4 linked regions of the Homo sapiens genome follow. The protein of the gene in region 4 purifies or fractionates together with the protein of the main gene of each other region. This does not show direct contact. Each region holds a gene or a part of one and is shown on either strand. Other genes may lie near its edges.

What was found. Proteins that work in one complex are often made in the same cells at the same time.
Region 1: the proteins of AKR1A1 (region 4) and GNPDA2 fractionate together in Homo sapiens (co-fractionation; one large-scale study listed by BioGRID). This does not show direct contact.
Region 2: the proteins of AKR1A1 (region 4) and C11orf54 fractionate together in Homo sapiens (co-fractionation; one large-scale study listed by BioGRID). This does not show direct contact.
Region 3: the proteins of AKR1A1 (region 4) and MAP4K5 purify together in Homo sapiens (affinity purification with mass spectrometry; one large-scale study listed by BioGRID and IntAct). This does not show direct contact.

The regions. Positions count from the first base shown.
Region 1 is NC_000004.12:44,713,057-44,716,556, forward strand, and holds part of GNPDA2 (glucosamine-6-phosphate deaminase 2), read right to left. Parts: intron 1,604-3,500; exon of another isoform or gene 1,540-1,603; intron 1-1,539. UniProt on the Homo sapiens protein: Catalyzes the reversible conversion of alpha-D-glucosamine 6-phosphate (GlcN-6P) into beta-D-fructose 6-phosphate (Fru-6P) and ammonium ion, a regulatory reaction step in de novo uridine diphosphate-N-acetyl-alpha-D-glucosamine (UDP-GlcNAc) biosynthesis via hexosamine pathway.
Region 2 is NC_000011.10:93,748,172-93,751,671, forward strand, and holds part of C11orf54 (ester hydrolase C11orf54), read left to right. Parts: intron 1-2,174; coding exon 2,175-2,273; intron 2,274-3,500. UniProt on the Homo sapiens protein: Exhibits ester hydrolase activity on the substrate p-nitrophenyl acetate, in vitro. Regulates DNA damage and repair by regulating HIF1A degradation via chaperone-mediated autophagy (CMA).
Region 3 is NC_000014.9:50,529,770-50,533,883, reverse strand, and holds the start of MAP4K5 (mitogen-activated protein kinase kinase kinase kinase 5), read left to right. Parts: upstream 1-1,314; 5' UTR 1,315-1,436; exon of another isoform or gene 1,437-1,484; intron 1,485-1,725; 5' UTR 1,726-1,834; coding exon 1,835-1,942; intron 1,943-4,114. UniProt on the Homo sapiens protein: May play a role in the response to environmental stress. Appears to act upstream of the JUN N-terminal pathway.
Region 4 is NC_000001.11:45,553,826-45,557,325, reverse strand, and holds part of AKR1A1 (aldo-keto reductase family 1 member A1), read right to left. Parts: intron 1-3,500. UniProt on the Homo sapiens protein: Catalyzes the NADPH-dependent reduction of a wide variety of carbonyl-containing compounds to their corresponding alcohols.

The sequences.
Region 1 (3,500 bases), on a different chromosome or scaffold from region 4:
GGACGCACTTATTAAATAATGGCTGGATAAATGAATGTATGGTTGCTATTCTTTGGTCAGCTCGGTATAGTTTATTCCACCTCCCACCTTGTTCTCTTCTGCCTTGCTCCCCTCACCAGAGGGGCTGGAACAATTTTAATTTCCTATATCCCTCTTAGGTAAAGTGACTGTGGTCTAGAGATAAGCACTTGTCTCAGGCTGAGCCAATCAAAATATCTGTCTGGATCTGAATCTTGACCAGGGATACAGTTAACGAAGACAGCATGGTGAACTGAAGCACTGGATGACAGCACTGCAGGGAGAAGATTGATGAGTTTCTACTTCTGAGATCTGAGGTTCTCTGTTTTTCCAAAGACTTGGTTGTTTTAACTTTTCCTTCAGTTTGTGAGTTACCCTAGAATCATTCCAGTTAATTTACTTTTGATCCCATTAGTTATTTCCTTTTTCTACCAAAGCAAAGAATCCAAGCATGCAACCAAATCAGAAGGTTAACATTTTCTCCACTGTCTTCTTTTATTTTTACTTTTTAAAAACACTATTAGGCCGGGTGCAGTGGCTCACACCTGTAATCCTAGCACTTTGGGAGGCCAAGGCAGGTGGATCACCAGAGGTCAGGAGTTCGAGACCAGCCTGGCCAATGTGGCAAAACCCCATCTCCACTAAAGATACAAAAATTAGCCGGGCATGGCGGCAAGTGCCTGTAGTCACAGCTACTCAGGAGGCTGAGGCAGGAGGATCGCTTGAACCTGGGAGGTGGAGGTTGCAGTAAGCCAAGATCAAGCCACTGTACTCCAGCCTGGGCAACAGAGCGAGACTCTGTCTCAACAACAACAAAAAACCCAAGACACTACTGCGTTAAGATATTTTAAAAGTTTATATATTTAGATTTTATTGTAAAACTAGATTTTTAAAATTATTTATTTATTCATTTTGAGACGGAGTTTCACTCTTGTTGCCCAGGCTGGAGTGCAATGGCACGATATCAGCTCACCACAACCTCGGCCTCCCAGGTTCAAGTGATTCTCCTGCCTCAGCCTCCCGAGTAGCTGGGATTACAGGCATGCACCACCACGCCCAGCTAATTTTGTATTTTTTTTTAGTAGAGACGGGGTTTCTCCATGTTGGTCAGGCTGGTGTCGAACTCCCAACCTCAGGTGATCTGCGCACCTCAGCCTCCCAAAGTGCTGGGATTATAGGTGTGAGCCACCGGATCCCAGCCCTAGATTTTATTTTTAAAAATCCATGTTTGTATATCTTATTGCTGGGGTTAAGTCAGGAATTGCATGATACACCTTTTACCCTTTCTCTGAACACGTTTGCCATCAGAGGAGGAATTAGAACATTTGAGTATGTATTTCCTCCTTTTTCTTTCCCTCTTCCCTCAGAGGAAAGGGACCTCTGCTCTAATTCCCTGGAATGAGCAATAGCAGATTAACATTTTTGAGCTCTTCTCATTCTACTGTTTCCAATTCAAAGGGCAGGAGTGAAAAACCCCATTCTGGCTTCAAGCCCAAACTGCAATCTCTATTTCAACTTTACCTTTAATAAAGCTGATATTTTGATCCCATTTGGCACAGTTCTTAGAGTTTTTATTAACCAAACCCTGGAACAAAAGAAGGGTAGTTGTAAGACCCAGATGCCAATCCTCATCTAAAAATCCAATGATGATAAACCTAGATCAACAAATGAGATTCTTTCATGAATACATATCCAATAATAGGGCATCCCAAATAAGGAAAAGTTCAAAGAAAATGCAATAATCCTTCTCTCTCTCTGCACAATTATGTCCTTTAGATGGTACATATAAAATGTCAGGCATTGGATCATCCATGACTACAGTGAAGATGTTAATGTAAGAGGCACAGGAACTCTCTTAAAATATATTTGGGAGCGGGGAGGAGCGGGGAAACAACTACAGGAAGCTTAAGACAAACTGGTTAAAAAACCAAGTCAAATTCTTTTTAGTGGTGTCAGTGATAAACATATATAATTATAACTTATGCAACATCTATTTCAAAAGGAGAACTGAGGTGGTTTATACTGAAGAAACATAACCCCCTCCCAAAAAAAATTAGCTGAAAAGAAGTACGAAATGATTTAAAGTTATAAGGAAAGAGGAAAGTTCTACCAGACATCTTGGATAAGAATTACAGGCTTAAACATTATTTTATGCTATGAATGCTTTCTGGAAGGCAGGCAAAGGAATAAAATCAAGTGTTCTTATCAGTGTTATTCCCCATAGTAAAATCTATTTCCTACCTTTGGGTCTACAAGAGATTTGTCACATGCATACTTATGTAAGGTCAATAAATTAACAAGGGGGAAAGAAAGTCTACAAATGAAGATATTTTCAAGCAGCCACTTTTAATAATGAACCTCAAACAACTAAGAGCCTTTTTTTGCATTATAGTAAATGAGTGAAAACATTTTTTGATATAAGCAGTTGAAGTATGTGGTACTCCAGTAATTCTACCAGATTTTGGTGTGGAGCTTAGAAAATCTAAAGATTAGATGGTCTATGCACCCCTCAGACACTCTCAAATATCTACTGTCTAGCCTGAATATTGGAAGGTACAAATGGTTAATTATCTCAAAATTGAGTCATACGTACAAAGCAGGAGTATGCAAATGTTCTCTAGGATTACTGAAGTAATATTAGTAAATTTTATTTAAAACAGATAACCTTCTAATTTGAAAAGCAATAGTCTAACTTGGTTTCTTGCTCCAATAAACAACCATTCTATCAAGAAAGTAAATGTTATTGACTCTGCTAGGTAGAAGTAAAAACTATCTTAAAGAGAAGATTTCAGTCTTCCTGGATGTCCCTAGAGGGAATTCGGTAAAAATCCCAAGGAATTCAGTAATTCTAAGGGACAATTATTTCCGCATTTACAGTTGAGAGAGAAAGAGAAGACTGAAGTAGCACTTATGGAGTACCAACTATATACCAAGCACTGTGTAAGGCATTTTATACATGTTACAACATGATTAATTCTCACAAATTTTGGAATGTTTAATATTAATCCTCTTTTACAAATGATGTACCTATACTGAACTTCAATAAACTTTCCCAGGTCATACAGATACTAAGTGGCTAAAACAGGATACAATTTTACGTCTGACTTTAAAACCAAATTTCCCCCAATGATAATCAACTATCTCAACCATACTTGGCCACTTCAAGTATAAATTAACCTCAGGACAGCTCTATTGAAGATCAAATTCATGTAATTTTGATCAGTGTTCTATTAAGTTAATAATAAGTTATATACAGATAATTTACAGCATTAGTATTTTTAGTTGAATATTAAAGAATCTGGCAAAAAATTTTGATTTTAGTTTAGTTGATGTTGAACTATTCTTATAGCAATTAGCTAGCTGTCTGCGATAGTTTACACTGATAATAGAAAACCACGTTGTCATTACAAAGGAAAAAACTTATTTTTAACTGTAGATTATATATACACACACATATATAAATTACAAGTGGAATTTGGTAA
Region 2 (3,500 bases), on a different chromosome or scaffold from region 4:
TGTTGTAACTTTCCTCTTATAATCTTTTTTTTTTTCCCTAATTGAATGGTAGCTAATAAACAATCTGTATTGTTTGGCCTGTATTTCTTTTTCATCAGTCTGTCTTCCCTAATATGACAGGGCAGTTAGGAATTTTTTCTTTTTCTTTTTTCTTTTTGTAGACATAGGATCTTGCTCTGTTGCCCAGGATGCTCTTGAACTCCTGGCCTCACTCGATGCTCCTGCCTCGGCCACCCAAAGTGTTGGGATTACAGGCATGAGCCACCATGCTTGGCCAGATTTTTTCTTTGATTGCTTTTCTAGAATCTGTTTTCACTTTTGTGTTTGTTTCTATTTTCCTTCTATATGTGCAGGATATATTCAGAAAAAGTAGAAATTTTATGGCCTGGCACAGTGGCTCATGCCTGTAATCTCAATACTTTAGGAGGCCAAGGTGGACAGATCACTTGAGGTCAGGAGTTCAAGACCAGCCTGGCCAACATGGCAAAACCCCATCTCTACTAAAAATACAAAAATTAGCTGAGTGTGGTGGTGTGTGCCAGTAATTCCCGCTATTCAGGAGTCTGAGCTACAAGAATCACTTGAACCTGGGAGGCAGAAGTTACGTTGAGCCAAGATCGCGCCACTGTACTTCGACCTGGGCAACAACACGAGACTCAGTCTCAAAAAAAAAAAAAAGAAAGAAAGAAATTGGCAAGGTGCGGTGGCTCATGCCTGTAATCCCGGCACTTTGGGAGGCTGAGGCAGGCAGATCACGAGGTCAGGAGTTCAAGACCAGCCTGGCCAACATGGTGAAACCCTGTCTCTACTAAAAATAGAAAAAATAGCTGGGTGTGGTGGCGGGCGCCTGTAACCCCAGCTACTCGGGAGGCTGAGGCAGGAGAATGGCGTGAACCTGGGAAGCAGAGGTTGCAGTAAGCCGAGATTGCGCCATTGTACTCCAGCCTGGGTGACAGGGTGAGACTCCATCTCAAAAAAAAAAAAAAAAAAAGACATTTTGTAAGAACTTTTGATCCTTAAAAGTACATAGGCTGATGCAGTGGCTCATGCCTATAATTCCAGCATTTTGGGAGGCCAAGGTGAGCAGATCTCTTAAGCCCAGGAGTTTGAGAGCCACCTGGGCAACAAGCCAAAACCCCATTTTTACAGAAAATACAAAAATTAGCCAATCATGGTGGCATCCACCTGTAGTCCCAGCTACTGGGGAGTTTGAGGTGGGAGGATTACTTGAGCCTGGAGATCAAGGCTGAGTGAGCCAAGATCATGCTGCATACCACTGCACTCCAGTCTGGGCGACAGGGTAGGTAAGGCTATCAGAGTGAGACTCTGTCTCAAAAAAAAAAAAAAAAAAAAAAACTGTTGAGGCTAGGTGTGATGGCTCATTGTAATCCCAGCACTTTGGGGGACCCAAGGCAGGAAGATCACATGAGTCCAGGAGTTCGAGACCAGCCTGGGCAATATAGCAAGACCTGGTCTCTACATATAAAAGAAAAAAAGAGAGAGGGAAATACATTGGTCTTACATTAATAACTTTGAGACACCTATGCTTTTTTACATTGTTACTGAGGTATAACTATCTACAGTAAAGTATGCTAATCTTGAGTGTACAGCTTGATGAATGTTAACAATAGTTACACCTATGTAACTACTATCCAGATCAAAATGTAAAATATTTCCAACATCCCAGAAGGCTCCTTTGCACACCTTCCCAGTCAGCCTTGATCCATTGCCTGTTTCTGAGATGCATAAGGTGAAGTAATATTGTATGTAGTGTTTTGTGTCTGGCTGCTTTGTTCAACATATTGTCTGTTACCTTCACTGAAGTTGTTACATGTGATTGCTTACTTTTTAAAAAGTTTAAATGTTTGCATTTCAGTTGGTTTTTGGAATCTTCTCTCAAAAAAGAAGGTAATCCTCACCCTCACACAAGTGCAGGCTGTTTATCTTCAACAGTTGAAAATCACTGTAGAGGAAGTATTTATATATCTTAGTCTACGTTGTATCTTGTGATTATGTCTAATGTCTAATTATATTCATTAATAAGACCATTTCCCCCTTCTTTTTTATTATACAAGTTGAGATTGGGAGTGTGTTGAGAGCCACATACCACTTTTGATACGTGGTAGCCAAGTTTTTACCTAATGTTAAATAATCTTATTCCTTGTCTTTATTAGTTATGCAGAAGGGGTTAAAAGATAACTTTGCTGATGTCCAGGTCTCTGTAGTTGATTGCCCTGATTTGACTAAGGAACCCTTTACCTTTCCTGTAAAAGGTAAGCAATTTTTGCAATTAGCTTTTGTTTTTTAGTCATAATCTTTTTCTGAAACTAGAATTATTTTTAAGGACATCTTAAATTATCTACAAATAAAGGATATTGTCACAACATTTAGGCTAAATTGTGCCAAATTTCTGTGCTCACTCTTCTGATATTGGTTAAATTTCATTTCATACTCTTGTGGAAAAGGATTGTGTTTTATTCACTTATGTAACCTTCACAGATTGTAGAATAGATATCCAATAGGTTAGAATTCTTTGTATCACACGAGAGTTTTGCTTTTAATTGCTCAGACTGTTATGGAAACTGATTTTAATTTTTATGATTTTATTTATTCAAGACCAGAAGGGATCCTAAAAGCCTTGTATTTGAATGATCTGTTAAAACTAATCCTTCAACAAATTTGCCAAGTGAGCATCCACTGTTTGAAGTGAGAAGGAAGGGAAATTAGTATTAGAAGAATAAAATAATTTGTCAGTATGATAGATAGTTAGTTGATGTTTCAGTTTTTACAATAACACCACAAGGTAAGTAGTAGCCCTTGTTTATAGATGAGAAAACTGAAAACGAGAGAGGCTAGATAAGCTCAGTGTAAATCATAACCAGGATTCAAATGCAAGTCTGTTTCCAAAGTCTAACCCCCTCCTGTTATACCCTATTATGATGAGGAATTTGAGGATAAACACTCAAAGTGTTCTTTTTATTATGTAATTAACATCTTTGCTAAAAAGGAGTTTGCCATAGAAATTCTGGACTCTAGTTCTGTCTTAGAACAAACCTGACTTTGAGATAACATTAGCATGAGGGGATTTGAATTGAATGTTTTTTGGGGGCCTTTACAGCTTAAACAATCTTTGATTTTAAGTAGAGCTGTAAATTCTAGAAGGCTTGTGTACCATGTGGCAATTTCTTTTAGCTTCTTCAAAGGATTTAGCATAGTACTTTTTTATAGTTTTTTTTTTTTTTTTTTTTTTTTGAGACAGAGTCTCACTCTGTCACCAGGCTGGAGTTCAGTGGCGCAATCTCAGCTCACTGCAACCTCTGCCTCCCAGGTTCAAGCGATTCTCCAGCCTCAGCCTCCTGAGTAGCTGAGACTACAGGCATGTGCCACCACGCCTGGCTAATTTTTTGTATTTTTAGTAGAGACAGGGTTTCACCGTGTTAGCCAGGATGGTCTCGATCTCCTGACCTCGTGATCCGCCCACCTCGGCCTTCCAAAGTGCT
Region 3 (4,114 bases), on a different chromosome or scaffold from region 4:
AGAAAATACATATATGCCCTGTCCTGTTAAGGTGCGAATTTAATTTCTACATTATACAATTATCAACAATAAGGAGTATTGTCAATTACTCCTTATTATACATTATACAATTATCAACAATAAGGAGTATTTTAATTCTCAAGAGCAGAATTAAAAATTGGATGTTCAAAGCCACAAGCCAACATCTCCAACTTGCTCTTTTATGATGTTTCAGTCACTAAATGCAGTGGCTGAGTGTTATCTGGCTTTTCTGTTCAAATTCTCTATGAGGCTCTAGAAATAACTTAGCCAGTATAATGTAACACTGGCAACTTAATTTCTACCTTCAGAGCAAGACTGGAACTGAAACTGCAAAACAGCTTGTGAAATATCAGCCAAATTACTTCCCCGAACTCCTGTTCCATATATGCTGTGCATTGTTAAGTATTTTAAGACCTCTTATATTCGATAACCCCCCTTACTATCCTGTAAAACGCTTTATAAACACTTTCCTGGGTGTCAGATGCAAAATCTTACCCTCTTCAAGCTGCAGATAAGGACACCGAGATGTTGCCAAATATGCTGTTTTGTCCCAGAGCACATACTGAGGAAGTGGTAGAACCAGAACCAGTCTGTGACCCCTTTGTTTTACTTTTGCGGAACTCCTGGTCTCATTAAAGGTGCAATACCAGCGATGAGACACTGCGTGTGCCCAACAGGGACAAAGGTCATTGAGCAGTCCTAGGAATTCAGACTTTCAGAAATGTCTCAGAAGAACTAAGTAGAAGGCAGGTTGTGCAGGTGTGCAGTGCAGCCTCAAACTGGTACCACCGGGATCGGTTTGCAAAACAGGAAGGTGCAGTAGGGTGTGCCGGGACTTAGTTAACCTGGCACTCCCCCACCTCCTTCCCCGGCGCCCCGCTGCCAGGTTACTTCTGGCCCGGTGCCCTTAACGTACCTTTTCCGTGTTTAACTTGGAGGGCTACGTTCCCATCGCCCTTCTTCCTCTACCCGTCACCCTACAGGCCTACCTGACAAATGTGGGGACGGTTTAGCCAAGGCCCGTTGGCCCACGAATGCCCAGGCGTGTGCCTTATTTCTGAGAGTGGGAGGGAGACAGCCCAGGCCCTGCAAGGACGCGCCCGGCTAGGGGGGCGCGGTGGCGCGGTCGGGAGGGTGTTGTGTTCTCAGCAGGCCTCAGGGCGGCACTCTGGTTCTGCGGCCGGAGTGCTCGGGCGGGCCGCTGGGCGCCGACCCATGCTGGCTGGGAACGTGTCTCCCGGTGACGCAGCCCCGGGTGGGGAACGTGGTGCGGCGGCGGCGGCGGCGGCGACTGTACGCGCCTCCGCCGCCCCCGAGAGGACGCGCCGTGCAGCGGCTGAGTGGCGGCGGCGGCGACGGCAAACCCGGAGCTGCCGGCCGGCGCGCGGGAGGAGGACGCGGGTGCGGTCTAGGAAGTAGGTCCCGGGCTCCGCGCTCAACAAAGACGGGGCCGCCCCCATTAGGTACGGAGCCGGCCCTGGGCCCCGGCTGGCGGGGAGGCCTCGTCGGGCAGTTCGCGGGCGGCCGGGGAGGGGGAAGGGCCGCAGACCGAACGGGGATACGGGGCGCCGGGGGCCCTTCCAGGCCCCTTTCTCTTCCACGGCCCCTGGCGGGACGGAAGGGAAGGGGCCGGGCCGCGAGGGCGCGGGCCGCTGGGGGTCGTAGCCTGCGACGCCAACCAGCCTTTGCTCGTCCCTCGTGCAGACGGAGCTGCGGGCGGAGGCTCCATGTTGGGAAGCGGCGCCGTTCGTGCTTGTTAGCGGGAATCCGGGAGCCGCGGGGTGAGCTGGCGGGGGCCGGGCCCTAAGTGAAGATGGAGGCCCCGCTGCGGCCTGCCGCGGACATCCTGAGGCGGAACCCGCAGCAGGACTACGAACTCGTCCAGAGGGTCGGCAGCGGCACCTACGGGGACGTCTATAAGGTAAGTGAGGCTGGCCGTGCTTTTTTCCTGCGGTCGACTGGGTCCCGGGAATGGGGCCACTTTCCTGCGAAGTATTGGGGCGAGAGGAGGATGCTTTTATTGTTGCCTCTTGGGGAGAAAGCGGCCGGGGTCCCTTTTACTCGGTTCTGAGCACCCTCGACTCATGGCTTGTTCTAATCGCTACCAACAGGCAGAACTAACCACACAGTTGCAAACCGCTGTTGCACTTTTTTTGTGGTTTAAAGGCTTTTTAATAGGGCTTATTTATGGTATTGAAGGGAATTTGAATCTGCTTGTGGAATTACACCGAAGGATGCTCTAGTGTTAGCATGGAAAAATGCTTCATGGAAGATAGACAGGAAAGAATATTGACATTCAGACATTTGCATTTTTTTAAAAAAATTTGTTTCAATGGATGAGTTTGACTAAAAAAGCCATATGAAACCCTGTCTCTGAGCTTTAACTGTAAGCAAACTAATATTGGTGACATTTATGCAAGCATTATCCCATATAAAAAGATGCTTTTCCTGGTGGAAGTTTGATCGTTTGTTTTTGGTTGGCGATAAAAATGTGATATTAACTTGCTGGGTTTTGTTTTACTTTAGCGGTTCCTTTCAGGGATTTATAACATCCTATAACCAAGAGTGGATATGAGCCGCTGTCTTTGTATTGTGCTGTTTTGTATTACTTAAGACAAACGATGAGAGTAAGTTACACCTAATTTAGGATTTTAAAAAACATTGTAGAGAAGCAAACCCAATTCCCCAAATCCGCTGAGTTCTTGAATGGTTCAGAGGAAAGAGATTGAGATTGCCTTATGCTTTTTGTTGTGTGTTCCAAAAAGGGAGCATTAGTGCAGCCTATGAATATTAAGGGCAAATTCCTTTGCTTTTTGCAACGGCGTTGTTTATTGGATTTGATCATGATATATATCGCATTGTGCCAAACAACACTTCTGCATATCGCTGAAGTGGTTTTGTGTCATTTGGGTAATTAACCAGTAGATTCCTCTGGGGTTAGGTTGTTGTTTTGCACAGGTGGTTCCCCTCTTTCTACTTACTTTTAATTTCCTCCTAATTAATATTAGCATTTCAAGGTAGTGGTATTATCAAACAGCCCTAGCACTGTTTGATTCTACTGAGATAAACTGTAATGGATAGGCTTTTTATTGCTTAAACAAGCATTTGAGTCTTCTGTACCAGGCACTGGTAGAGGTACTGAGGTGATGAATTGTGAGCAAGGTTCTGGCTCTTACCTTGTGAATACCTTTGAACTCAAAGTGTATGTTTGTAACAATCCTCTTCTTCTTTATGTAAAATTAGAGGTAGTTAACTTAGTTGTTTATCCAGGGATTAGCCATTTTGTGGAATGCTCTTCAGAAAATTGAAATTCCTATTTCCTTTCTCAGTCTCATTTTTTAGTCATCTTTGTCTTATGATTCACTGTGTGTTAGACGAGTTCAATTTAGTTCATGTTAATTTACAATAGTATAAATTCTACTTGTATATATTCTCTTCTCCCTACTACAATAAAGTTTTAGGAGTGTTTTTCCCATAAAGATCTTAAGACCTCCACCCTTTTTCTTCATAGATGTAGTAACTAAAGCAACTCTGGAGCAGGATTTTATTCATGCCTGAGAAAAAGCAAAGATTATATTTAAGGGGCAGCTAATGCCTGCCTTTTACCCTGGTGCCTTCCTGCCCTAGTCTCTCTTCTGCAGTTCCCAAACAGAATCAAAAACCGAATATTCATCATACTCTACCTTCACCCCTTAACACATGGTCCCCTACCCTCACAATGTTGCTTCCTCTACCCTCACAATGTTGCTTCCTCACACTTACATGTATATTCATTGCACACTAGGCCAGCCTCTGATTCTAAACATCCTTAAGGCGTTCTTAGCTCCTTGTCTTTTGTTTTCCTTTGTTCTAATTACTTGGAATCACCTTCCACCCCTCCATTTCCACCTGTTGCTGTAATACCTGTCCATGAAAGCCTTACCCAAATGCTCCTGGGCAAGACAGCCCTTCCCTCTTATTTCTCAGCCTCATCTACCACTCTCCTTAGTCATTCTGCTCTAGTCACACTGGCCTGCTTGCTGCTCCTTAAACATGATAAGCATCTCCCCATCTTTGGGTCCTTGTTCTTGCTATTTCCTCTCTTCGTAATGTC
Region 4 (3,500 bases):
CTGCTTGATACAACTGCTTTCCAGCCTAGCTGTGCGTGAACAGATTCCAGACTCTGAGCTTGTCAGGAACTGCCTATCTGGACCTTTGGCAGCATTCAGAAACCCTCATGTTATCTTTTTTATTTTTATTTTTTTGAGATAGAGTTTCATTCTTGTCACCCAGGCTGGGGTGCAATGGCGCGATCTTGGCTCACTGCAACCTCCACCTCCTGGGTTCAAGCGATTCTCCTGCCTCAGCCTCCCCAGTAGCTGGGATTACAGGCATGTGCCACCACGCCCAGCTAATTTTTGTATTATTAGTAGAGACAGGGTTTCACCATGTTGGCCAGGCTGGTCTTGAACTCCTGACCTCAGGTGATCCACCAGTCTCAGCTTTTCAAAGTGCTGGGATTACAGGCATGAGTCACTGTGCCCAGCCTATCTTTTACTTTATTTATTTATTTTGTTTGAGATGGAGTTTCACTCTTCTTGCCCAGGCTGGAGGGCAATGACGCAATCTTGGCTCACCACAACCTCCACCTCCCAGGTTCAAGCGATTCTCCTGCCTCAGCCTCCCGAGTAGCTGGGACTACAGGCGCCCGCCACCACGCTCGGCTAATTTTTGTATTTTTAGTACAGACGGGGTTTCACTGTATTGGCCAGGCTGGTCTCGAACTCCTGACCTTGTGATCCACCCACCTCGGCCTCCCAAAGTGCTGGGATTACAGGCGTGAGCCACTGCGCCCGGCTATCCTTTTTTTCTTTTAAGACGGAGTCTTGCTCCGTCACCCAGGCTGGAGTACAGTGGCACGATCTTGGCTCACTGCAACCTCCACTTCCCAGGTTCAAGTGATTCTCTTGCCTCAGACTCCAGAGTAGCTGGGATTACAGGCGCCCACCACCACACCTGGCTAATTTTTTGTATTTTTAGTAGAGACGGGGTTTCACCATGTTGGGTAGGCTTGTCTCAAACTCCTGACCTCAAGCAATCCACCCACCTCGGCCCAATGTGCTGGGATTACAGGCGCGAGCCGCCGCGCCCGGCGGAAACCTTCATGTTATATTCAAGTGTAAAAGAGAGATGTGTGGGTTGAGTGGGGAGGAGGGTATTATCAGGAATCAGGTTTTATTATTTCCAATTCAATGCCTAGGTTCCTTCCCTCTGTTGAATTCTTTCTTTCTCAAAGGGCTCTACAGTTGCTGCCTGGCTGCAGGGAAGTAGAAGACACAGGAAAAAAAGGAAACAATATCTACATGAGTGTTTCCTAGCTGCATGGGCCTCTCCTCTGGCTCCCACATATGCTGGTGTGGGAGGCAAAGGAAAGGTCCCTTCAGGGTTTTCTCCTCAATCTTCTCATTCCCTAGTTGAGTTCATGTCTTCGGTTATCGCCTTAGGCCTTGATTCTTCTCACCCCACTTCTGTATATTCAACGCCCTCTGGACCTCTCCACTAGTATGTATAGGCATCTGAGATTCGCCATGTCCAAAACTGTACTCATCAAATCCAGCAGTAGAGTACAGAGGAAACAGTTTAGGCTGTGGGGCTACGCAGACCTGGGTTTGAATCTCAGTTCTGATATTTTCAAGAGATACTATATCTAAAGCACCTTGCACAGGGCCTAACCCATGCTCTTCTTTCTGTATAGTCATCCCGTGGTATCCACAGGAGATTGGTTCCAGGACCCCTTCAGATACCAAAATCCTGGGATGCTCCAGTCCCTTATATAAAATGGCATAGTATTTGCATAAACCTAAGTACATCTTCCTGTATATTTTAATCAACTCTAAATACTTATAATTCCTAATACAATATAAATGCTAAATGCTAGGTAAATAGGTGTTATAATTTTTTTTTTTTTTAGACACAGTTTCACTCTTGTTGCCCAGGCTGGAATGCAACGGCGCAATGTCGGCTCACCGCAACCTCCGCCTCCTGGGTTCAAGTGATTCTCCTGCCTCAGACTCCCGAGTAGCTGGGATTACAGGCATGCGCCACCACGCCTGGCTAATTTTGTATTTTTAGTAGAGACAGGGTTTCTCCATGTTGGTCAGGCTGGTCTCGAACTCCCGACCTCAGGTGATCCACCCACCTTGGCCTCCCAAAATGCTGGGATTACAGGCGTGAGCTACCACGCCCGGCCTATACTGTATTTTTTTATTTGAATTTTTAAAGTTGGTTTTTGTTCCCAAGTATTTTTGATTCTAGGTTGAATCCGCAGATGCACAACTTGTGGATAGAGTGTTGACTTTGTACTCTATCTCACCAAAAGACCAAAGCCCTGGATAACAAGTGTTAAAGCAAACCAGACAACATGTTGATAGTATAATCCATTTGGGCCTTAAAAAAAAACATCTGGTTGCGTGTGGTGGCTCATGCCTGTTAATCCCAGCACTTTGGGAGGCTGAGGCAAGCAGATTGCTTGAGTCCAGGAGTTCGAGACCAGCCTGGGGGACATGGCAAAACTTAATCTCTACAAAAAATATGAAAATTAGCCAGGCATAGTGATGTGTCTCTATGGTCCTAGCTACTCAGGGGGCTGAGGCAGGAGGATCCCTTGAGCCTGGGGGGCAGAGGTTGCAATGAGCTGAAATCACACCACTGCACTCCAGCTTGGGCCACAGACTGAAACCCTGTCTAAAAAATAAATAAATAAAAGCCATCTAAAGAAAGTATTTGTAGTTCCTTGCAGGCATTTATGAGTATTATCAGATTATGGTTTTGATAAGTAGTTGGTGAGGAGAGTATTTTCTCCTGTACTTTTCTTTTTGAGACAGGGTCTCACTCTGTTGCCCAGGCTGGAGTGCAGTGGCCCATTCATGGCTCATTGCAGCTTCGAACTCCTGGACTGGAGCAATCCCGAGTAGCTGGGACTACAGGCACATGTCACCACACCCAGCTTATTTATTTACTTATTTATTGAGACAGAGTCTCGCTCTAACGTCCAGGCTGGAGGGCAGTGGTGTGATCTCAGCTCACTGCAAACTCCACCTCCCAAGCTCAAGCTATCCTTTCCATTCAGCCTCCCAGGTAGCTGGGACTAGAAGCATGGGCCACGATGTCCAGCTCATTTTTTGTGTTTTTCGTAGAGACAGGGTTTCTCCTTGTTGCCCAGGCTGGTCTGAAACTCCTGGGCTCAAGTGGTCCTTCTGCCTCAGCCTCCCAAAGTGCTGGGATTATAAGTGTGAGCCACTATGCCTGGCCTTATTTTTCTTTTGTAGAGATAGGGTCTCACTGTGTTGCCCCCTCAAACTTCTAGCCTCAAGTGACCCTCCCACCTTGGCCTCCTAAAGTGCTGGGATTACAGGTGTGAGCCACCACACCTGGCTTTCTCCTATACTTCTTTTTTTTTTTGAGACGGAGTCTCGCTCTGTCACCCAGGCTGGAGGGCAGTGGCGTGATCTCGGCTCACTGCAAGCTCCGCCTCCCGGGTTCATGCCATTCTCCTGCCTCAGCCTCCCGAGTAGCTGGGACTACAGGTGCCCGCTACCATGCCCAGCTAATTTTTTTGTATTTTTTAGTA